2 linked regions of the Homo sapiens genome follow. The protein of the gene in region 1 purifies or fractionates together with the protein of each later gene. This does not show direct contact. Each region holds a gene or a part of one and is shown in the gene's direction. Other genes may lie near its edges.

Evidence for each region. The genes of interacting proteins can lie anywhere in the genome.
Region 2: the proteins of ARRDC1 (region 1) and KCTD2 purify together in Homo sapiens (affinity purification with mass spectrometry; 4 studies listed by BioGRID and IntAct, with this or other methods). This does not show direct contact.

The regions. Positions count from the first base shown.
Region 1 is NC_000009.12:137,608,623-137,612,610, forward strand, and holds part of ARRDC1 (arrestin domain-containing protein 1), read left to right. Parts: intron 1-3,800; exon of another isoform or gene 3,801-3,988. UniProt on the Homo sapiens protein: Functions as an adapter recruiting ubiquitin-protein ligases to their specific substrates. Through an ubiquitination-dependent mechanism plays for instance a role in the incorporation of SLC11A2 into extracellular vesicles.
Region 2 is NC_000017.11:75,049,834-75,053,821, forward strand, and holds part of KCTD2 (BTB/POZ domain-containing protein KCTD2), read left to right. Parts: intron 1-3,180; coding exon 3,181-3,272; intron 3,273-3,988.

The DNA.
Region 1 (3,988 bases):
TTCGATGATTTGAAAAGGCAGAAACATGGCCGCTGCCATTGGCCTGGCCAGTGAAAACGGGCTCCCTGGGAAATTCACCCAGCCTGACCTGAAGCAGTTGCTGAGAGGCAGAGGAGCAGCTCCAGGTGTTTTGGCAGGGAAGCAGCTGGCAGCTGTGCGGGAGCCCCTTGCCTCCCGTGTTCTTACTGAGGAGTGTGTGGGGCAGCTCGGGACAGGTTTCACTTTGGACAGTGGTTGGAGGCTGCTTACTCTGGCAGAGTCATCTCAAAGAGCCTTGGTGTATGTGCAAAACGGGGCCATCTGCATGGGCGTTGGGAAGATCACAGAACCTGGACCCTTAGGATGACCCAAGGGTCAGTTGCATACTGTTTGTTTTTGTGGAGTCAATGTCCCATGACGGTTTTCGCGATGCTTTGCTAGTAGGAGCAGTGGCGTGTGAGGCTCCCGGTTAAATACCATGAGATTCTAAGCGGAATTCTGGGTCTCCTGGTATGCACAGGTAAAATTACAGTAGACCTGTCCCACTCTTTGCCAGAACCTCGTACTTGTCTGCAGTTTGACTGGAATAAGGGGTGTTTGTGTTCCACCTCCCTCCAACGTGTGTTGAGACATTTATTTATTTATTTATTTATTTACGTTGCTCTTGTTACCCAGGCTGGAGTGCAGTGGTGCAATCTCAGCTGCTCACCGCAACCTCTGCCTCCCTGGTTCAAGTGATTCTTCTGCCTCAGACTCCCGAGTAGCTGGGACTACAGGCACGCGCCACCAGGCCTGGCTAATTTTGTATTTTTAGTAGAGACGGGGTTTCTCCGTGTTGGTCAGGCGGGCCTGGAACTCCGAACCTCAGGTGATCCGCCCGCCTCAGCCTCTTAAAGTGCTGGGATTACAGGCGTGAGCCACTGTGCCTGGCCCCAAGACATTGATTTTATTTGAGATGAGGTCTCACTTTGTCACCCAGACTGGAGTGCAGTGGTACAATCTTGGCTCACTGCAACTCCTTCCTCCGGGGCTCCCACCACAGCCTCCTGAGTGACTGGGACCAGGGGCACGCGCCACCACACCCAGCTAATCTTTGGTAGTTTTGGTAGAGATGGGGTTTCACCGTGTTACCTAGGCTGCTGTCACACTTCTGGCCTCAAGCAATCCGCTCGCCTTGGCCCCCCAAAGTGTTGGGATTACAGGCGTGAGCCACTGCGCCCAGCTGTGTCGAGACATTTAATATTTGTCAATCTGATGGATTGAAATGGTAGGTCATTTGGGCTTTCCCTGCAAGCTCCACCTTCCGGGTTCACGCCATTCTCCTGCCTCAGCCTCCTGAGTAGCTGGGACTACAGGCGCCCGCCACCACACCCGGCTAATTTTTTGTATTTTTAGTAGAGACGGGGGTTTCACCGTGTCAGCCAGGATGATCTCGATCTCCTGACCTCGTGATCTGCCCGCCTCGGCCTCCCACAGTGCTGGGATTACAGGCTGAGCCACTGCGCCCGGCCGGGTTTTCTGTAATTTCTAGTGAGGTTGGACATCTGTTCCAGTTACCTACTGCTACGTAAAAGTCGCGGTCACCTCAAGTCAGACACCATTCTTAAAACAGTTAACACAACCATTTTATTATATCTCACAGCGTTGTGGGTTAGGAATCTGGACAGTGAGGGCAGGGTTAATCTTCAGTTCTGTGCCACCAGCTGGGATCACTTGAGGGTGCTTGGCTGGCATACGGGTTAGTCTGGGGACCACTGCCCCCTTTCCGGCATCCTCTGTGGGTTCCAGCATTTTTCTTTTTTTTTTCTTTTTGAGATGAAGTCTCGCTCTGTCACCCAGGCTAAAGTGCATTTGTGCGATCTCAGCTCACTGCAACCTCTGCCTCCTGGGTTTAAGTGATCCTCATGCCTCAGCCTCCCAAGTAGCTGGGATTACAGGCGTGTGCCACCATGCCTGGCTAATTTTTGTATTTTTTTTTTGAGATGGAGTTTCACTCTTGTTGCTCAGGCTGGAGTGCAGTGGCGCGATCTCGGCTCACTGCAACCTCCGCCTCCCAGGTTCAAGCGATTCTCCTGCCTCAGCCTCCCTGGTAGCTGGGATTACAGGCATGTGCCACCATGCCCAGCTAATTTCGTATTTCTAGTAGAGATGGGGTTTCTCCATGTCGGTCAGGCTGGTCTGGAACTCCTGACCTCAGGTGATCTGCCTGCCTTGGCCTCCCGAAGTGCTGGGATTACAGGCATGAGCCACCGTGCCCGGCCTTTTTTGTATTTTTAGTAGAGATGGGGTTTCACCATGTCAGCCAGGCTGGTCTTGAACTCCTGACCTCAAGTGATCCACCCGCCTTGGCCTCCCACAGTGCTGGGATTACAGGTGTGAGCCACTGCACCCAGCTGGGTCCCAGCATTTGCGGGATTCAAGGTGGGGATGTGCAGTCTGTCAGGAGTGTTAAAAGCACGGCAGCATTTCCAGTCCCCAGGCCTCCTCTCCTTGCTTCAGCCACGCCCACCCTCCTCTGTGCCTGCTCATGCCCATGTGCTTCTGTTGGGCTGTCTGCTGGTCCACAGGAGGATTACTGGTGTTCCGGATTTTCAGCATGAACACAGTATGGGGTCTGGCCCGAGGAGGGCCTGGCTAACAGAGCATGGATTCAAAATCAGAGCAGAGCTGGGTACCGTGGCTCATGCCTGTAATCCCAACACTTTGGGAGGCTGAGGCAGGTGGATTGCTTGAGCTTAGGAGTTTGAGACCAGCCTGGACAGCATGGCAAAACCCTGTCTCTATAAGAAAAACAAAAAACAAAAAACAAAACCCAGGTGTGGTGGCACGTGCCTGTAGTCCTAGCTACTTGCGGGGCTGAGATGGGTGGATCGCTTGAACACAGGAGGTTAAGGCTGCAGTGAGCCGAGATCGTGCCACTGCACACTAGCCTGGGCGGCGGGAGTGAGACCGTGTCTCAAAAACAACAACAACAACAACAACAACAAAAAAACAAAAAATGGACCGAGGTTGGGGTGGCAAGGCTGGGCTGGAATGGAGGCTGAGGACAGGCCCTGGCAGCGCCCGGGGGTAGAGGGCGTGCAGCAGGAAGCAAGGGCCACCCTCAGGGATGGGGGACTGGGCCTGGCAGCTGCCGAGGGGTAGGCAGGATGCATGTGGAGAGCCACGTGGGGCTGCGGCTGAGCCAAGGATTGTGAGAGGAATCCTGCTGCTCTGGGTGGCAGGCAGAAGGCCTGGGCCACAGGTGGGGCCTGCTGGGGAGACCACAGGTGAGGCAGGTATGGCTGACCCTGGGCGCTCGGCACACCGGTACTCCTCCTGCCTGGCTGCTCCCTCAGCAGGTGTCAGAGTCTGAGTCACCTTTTCCTCACGTGACCCCCACCAGGACCAGGCAGGGAGGTGGCCATCTTTGGCCCTGACTCAGCCCTGCAGGGAGAAGAGGGGCTGGAGGTGCAGGTGGCCTGCCACTGTCTCCCCCAACCCCTGCCCACCTGGGTCTTGTGCTGTGTGTACTTCTGCTGCGTCTGTCCTCCCTTGTGACCAGCTTCTGCTGGACCTGATTGTCCAGCCATGATCTTCTGATCATCATGGTTTCTGGACACACATCTGTTGGACTAAGGAATTTGTGTTCCTGGCCACAGAACAGTGCCACCTCTGCCTCAAGCAGTTCCTGGTCTGGGCACTCCCCCAGGGAGGCCGGAGAGGACTGAGCCGTCTCCTGATGCAGAAAGTCAGCCCCGCTGGGCAGTGCTCGCCCAGGAAGTAGGGCCCCACCCAACGGTGTGCTGACTGTGGAACACTGTGTCTGCCTAGGCGGGTCTGGCCACATTCCTGCAGCATGATGGTTGGCAGTTAGCTTCCTGGAGTGTGGACGGGTCCTTCCCTGCCTGACTGACTTGTCCACAGGGCAGCAAGAAGATGCGCCCCTTGGTGTGTCCCGAGTGTCTCCTGTAGGCAGCTGAGCTTTCGCAGGTCTGGCTGGGAGCCAAGGTTACCAATCTGGGGGGTA
Region 2 (3,988 bases), on another chromosome or scaffold:
ATTACTTGCCTCATCTTTGTGGTTTGTAGGGCATTGGGACTATAAGTGGGTCTAGTCCACTTTCTACAAGGCTTGGCATGGTCCCACTGAAGGCATTCAGTTGTAAAGGGGACTGTCCCTAAATCCAGGGCACCCTGATCTGGGAGCTTTGGCTCTGAGTAAGAAAGCTTGTAATGGCTGTACTAGTTAATGAAGTGACTGTGAAACAACTCTGTTTCAGCTAGTAGAAAGAGGAATTGCTCTCTCTCTCTTTTTTTAAATGTCCCTTTTTAAACAATATTTCAAACGCATACAGAAGTAATGGGAATAGTACATACAGTGAATTCCTTGCATCCACTATCCAGCTTCAACAATTACCAACTCATGGGTGATCTTAATCTTATTTATTTTTCTTTTTTAATTTTTGTAAGTACCTAGTAGGTGTATATATTTATGGGGTACATGAGATTTTTCTTTTTTTTTTCTTCGCTCAGGCTGGAGTGCACTGGCACAATCTTGACTCACTGCAACCTCAGCCTCCTGGGTTCAAGCGATTCTCCTGCCTCAGCCTCCCAAGTAGCTGGGATTACAGGCGTGCACCACCATGCTTGACTAATTTTTTGTATTTTTAGTAGAGACAGGGTTTCACCATGTTGACCAGGCTGGTCTTGAACTCCTAACCTCAAGTGATCCACCTGCCTCAGCCTCCCAGAGTGCTGGGATTACAGGCCTGAGCCTCCGCGCCCGACCTGAGATGTTTGGATATAGGCATGCAGTGTGAAATAAGCACATCATGGAGAATGGGGTATCCATCCCCTCAAGCATTTATCCTTTGTGATACAAAAATTCAATTACCCTCTTTTAGTTAAGTATCTTTTCTAATGCCTTTAATTAAAAAAACTTTATTTTGAAGTAATTTAAAACTTCAAAATAAGCAAGAAAAGAGCAAGAATAACACAGAGAACTCCCTATATCCCAGATTAACCAATTTTCAATGTTATTTTTGTCATATTTGGGGTATGGGGAGATCTTTTTGTTGTTTTTTTAAGAGTCAGAGTCTATCTTATCTTGCCCAGGCTGGTCTCAAATGTCTGGCCTCACATGCTCCTCCTGCCTCAGCCTCCTGAGTAGCTGCGATTATAGGCATGAGCCATCATGCCCAGCTTTTTTTTTTTTTTTGAGACGGAGTCTTGCTCTGTTGCCCAGGCTGGAGTGCAGTGGCGCAATCTCGGCTCACTGCAAGCTCCACCTCCCAGGTTCACGTCATTCTCCTGCCTCAGCCTCCCGAGTAGCTGGGACTATAGGCGCCCACCACCACACCCAGTTAATTTTTTGTATTTTTAGTAGAGACAGGGTTTCACCATATTAGCCAGGATGGTCTCATCTCGATCTCCTGACCTTGTGATCTGCCTGCCTCAGCCTCCCAAAGTACTGGGATTACAGACATGAGCCACCGCGCCCGACCTTTTTTTTTTTTTTTTTTTTTTTTGGCGACAGAGTCTCCCTCTGTTGCCCAGGCTGGAGTGCAATGGCACTATCACAGCTCACTGCGACATCCACCTCCCGGGTTCAAGCGATTTTCCTGCCTCAGCCTCCTGAGTACCTGGGATTACAGGTGCATGCCACCACGCCTGGCTAATTTTTTTATTTTTGGTAGAGACGGGGGTTTCACCATGTTGGTCAGGCTGGTCTTGAACTCCTGACCTCGTGATCCACCCGCCTTGGCCTCCCGAAATGCTGCGATTACAGGCGTGAGCCACCATGCCCGACCTTTTTTTTTTTTAAATCATATTTGCATTGTCCTTCATTCTCTATTTCCCCCTCCCTACCCCCATCCTCTTGCCTCTCCCACCACAGTTATTTCTGAACTATTTGAGAATAGATTGCAGATTTCACCCCTTAATATTTGTATATATTTCCCAAGAACAAGGATACTGTTTTATGTAACCACAGACAGTACAGTTATCAAACTCAGGAAATTTAATACTGATGCTTTTATCTACAGCTTATATTGCAGTTTTGTCAGTTGTCCTAATAATGGCCTTTATAGCAAATTTATTCCTATAGGATCACACGTCTCATAGTTGCCCTAAGGCCTTTGAGTTCATTTAGCATGCAAGTCTTTAAATGGTTGCCTTTTATATTGTTCAAATGATTAGCATCCTATTAAGTTTGGCCCACATAAATTTGTACACACACCTCCACCCCCACCCCCAGTCCTTTTGAGGGCAGATTGGACAAAAATATCAAGTTCAGGAGGTGTCCAACATGACTAGTTCCAGGAACTAAGTGACATATGGGAAAAGTGTCCTGCAGCTAATGGGCAGGTGCCAGGTAGGGAAAGGAGGGTTGAAATGGAGTGAGCAGAACATACCCTGGCGTTTGACTAATTTATGTTGGAGAAAAGGTCATGGGTTTACCGAAAATAGCAAAGAGATATTTCCTAGCAGAAGGAGAGAGATTGGATTTGCATTTAAATAATGCAGTTTTTAGGCCAGGAGCTGTGGCTCATGCCTGTAATCCCAACACTTGGAAGGCCAAGGTGGGCGGATCACTTGAGGTTAGGAGTTTGAGACCAGCCTGGCCAACATGGCAAAACCCCGTCTCTGCGAAAAATACAAAAATTGGCTGGGTGCGGTGGCTTTACGCCTGTAATCCCAGAACTTTGGGAGGCCAAGGCAGATGGATCACCTGAGGTCAGGAGTTCAAGACCAGCCTGACCAACATGATGAAACCCTGTCTCTACTAAAAATACAAAAAATTAGCCAGGCGTGGTGGCAAGCGCCTGTAATCCCAGCTACTTGGAAGGCTGAGGCAGCAGAATCTCTTGAACCCAGCAGGCGGAGTTTGCAGTGAGCCAAGATCATGCCATTGCACTCCAACCTGGGCAACAAGAATGAAACTCTGTTTCGGGCGGGGGGAAAAAATAGAAACAGCCGGGTGTGGTGGTATGTGCCTGTAGTCCCAGCTACTTGGGAGACTGAGGCAAGAGAATCATTTGAACGCAGGAGGCGGAGGTTGCCGTGAGCCAAGATCGCACCACTGAACTCCAGCCTGGGCGACAGAGTAAGACTCCGTCTCAAAAAATAAGTAAATAAATAAATAAGCAGTTTTTAGCAAGCATGTAACCTTCATCCTCTCCTTGGTGTTTTTCTGGCAAACCCTCGCACCTATCTGACTGCAGTTTTGTCCTTGTTCCAGGTGTGCTGGAGGAAGCGGAGTTTTACAACATCGCGTCCCTTGTGCGGCTGGTTAAGGAAAGGATACGGGACAATGAGAACAGAACTTCACAAGTAATGTATTTGGAACTGTTAAGGAGGGTTGTTTCAAGTGGGCTTCTGTCGGTCGGTCTGTGATTTGAAAAGGATGCCTTTACCCTTAGAGCTGGAGGTGTGTGTGGAACACCGTTTGCAGTGCAGGGAATGCACACTCAGCCAAACTGCACAGGAGAAAAGAAGAAACCACAAAGAAAACAGAATAGGCCTATGTCCCAATAGAATGAGAAGATTGTCGCTGCTTACCAGATGGCGGGAGGAGGCGCCCAGGGCACTTTAGGTCTAAAACCTGTTCTCTGCCCGAGTATGTCTCCCTCCTAAAGACCATAGAGGTCTTGGTTGCACCCGTTGGCCGCTCTTTTTTTTTTTATGAGATGGAGTCTCGCCCTGTCGCCCAGGCCGGAGTGCAGTGGTGCAATCTCGGCTCACTGCAACCTCTGCCTCCCAGGTTCAAGTAATTCTCCTGCCTCAGCCTCCCGTGTAGCTGGGACTACAGGTGTGTGCCACCACGCCTGACTAATTTTTGTATTTTTTTAGTAGAGATGGGGTTTCACCATGTTGGTCAGGCTGGTCTCGAACTCCCGACCTCAGGTGATCTGCCCGCCTCAGCCTCCCAAAGTGCTGGGATTACAGGCGTGAGGCACTGCGCCCAGCTTGGCCACTCTTTATGGAGATGAGCCTTTAGCATGTGATCGAGTCACATGCAGCTCCTGTGAGCCACTTGAAACCAGTCT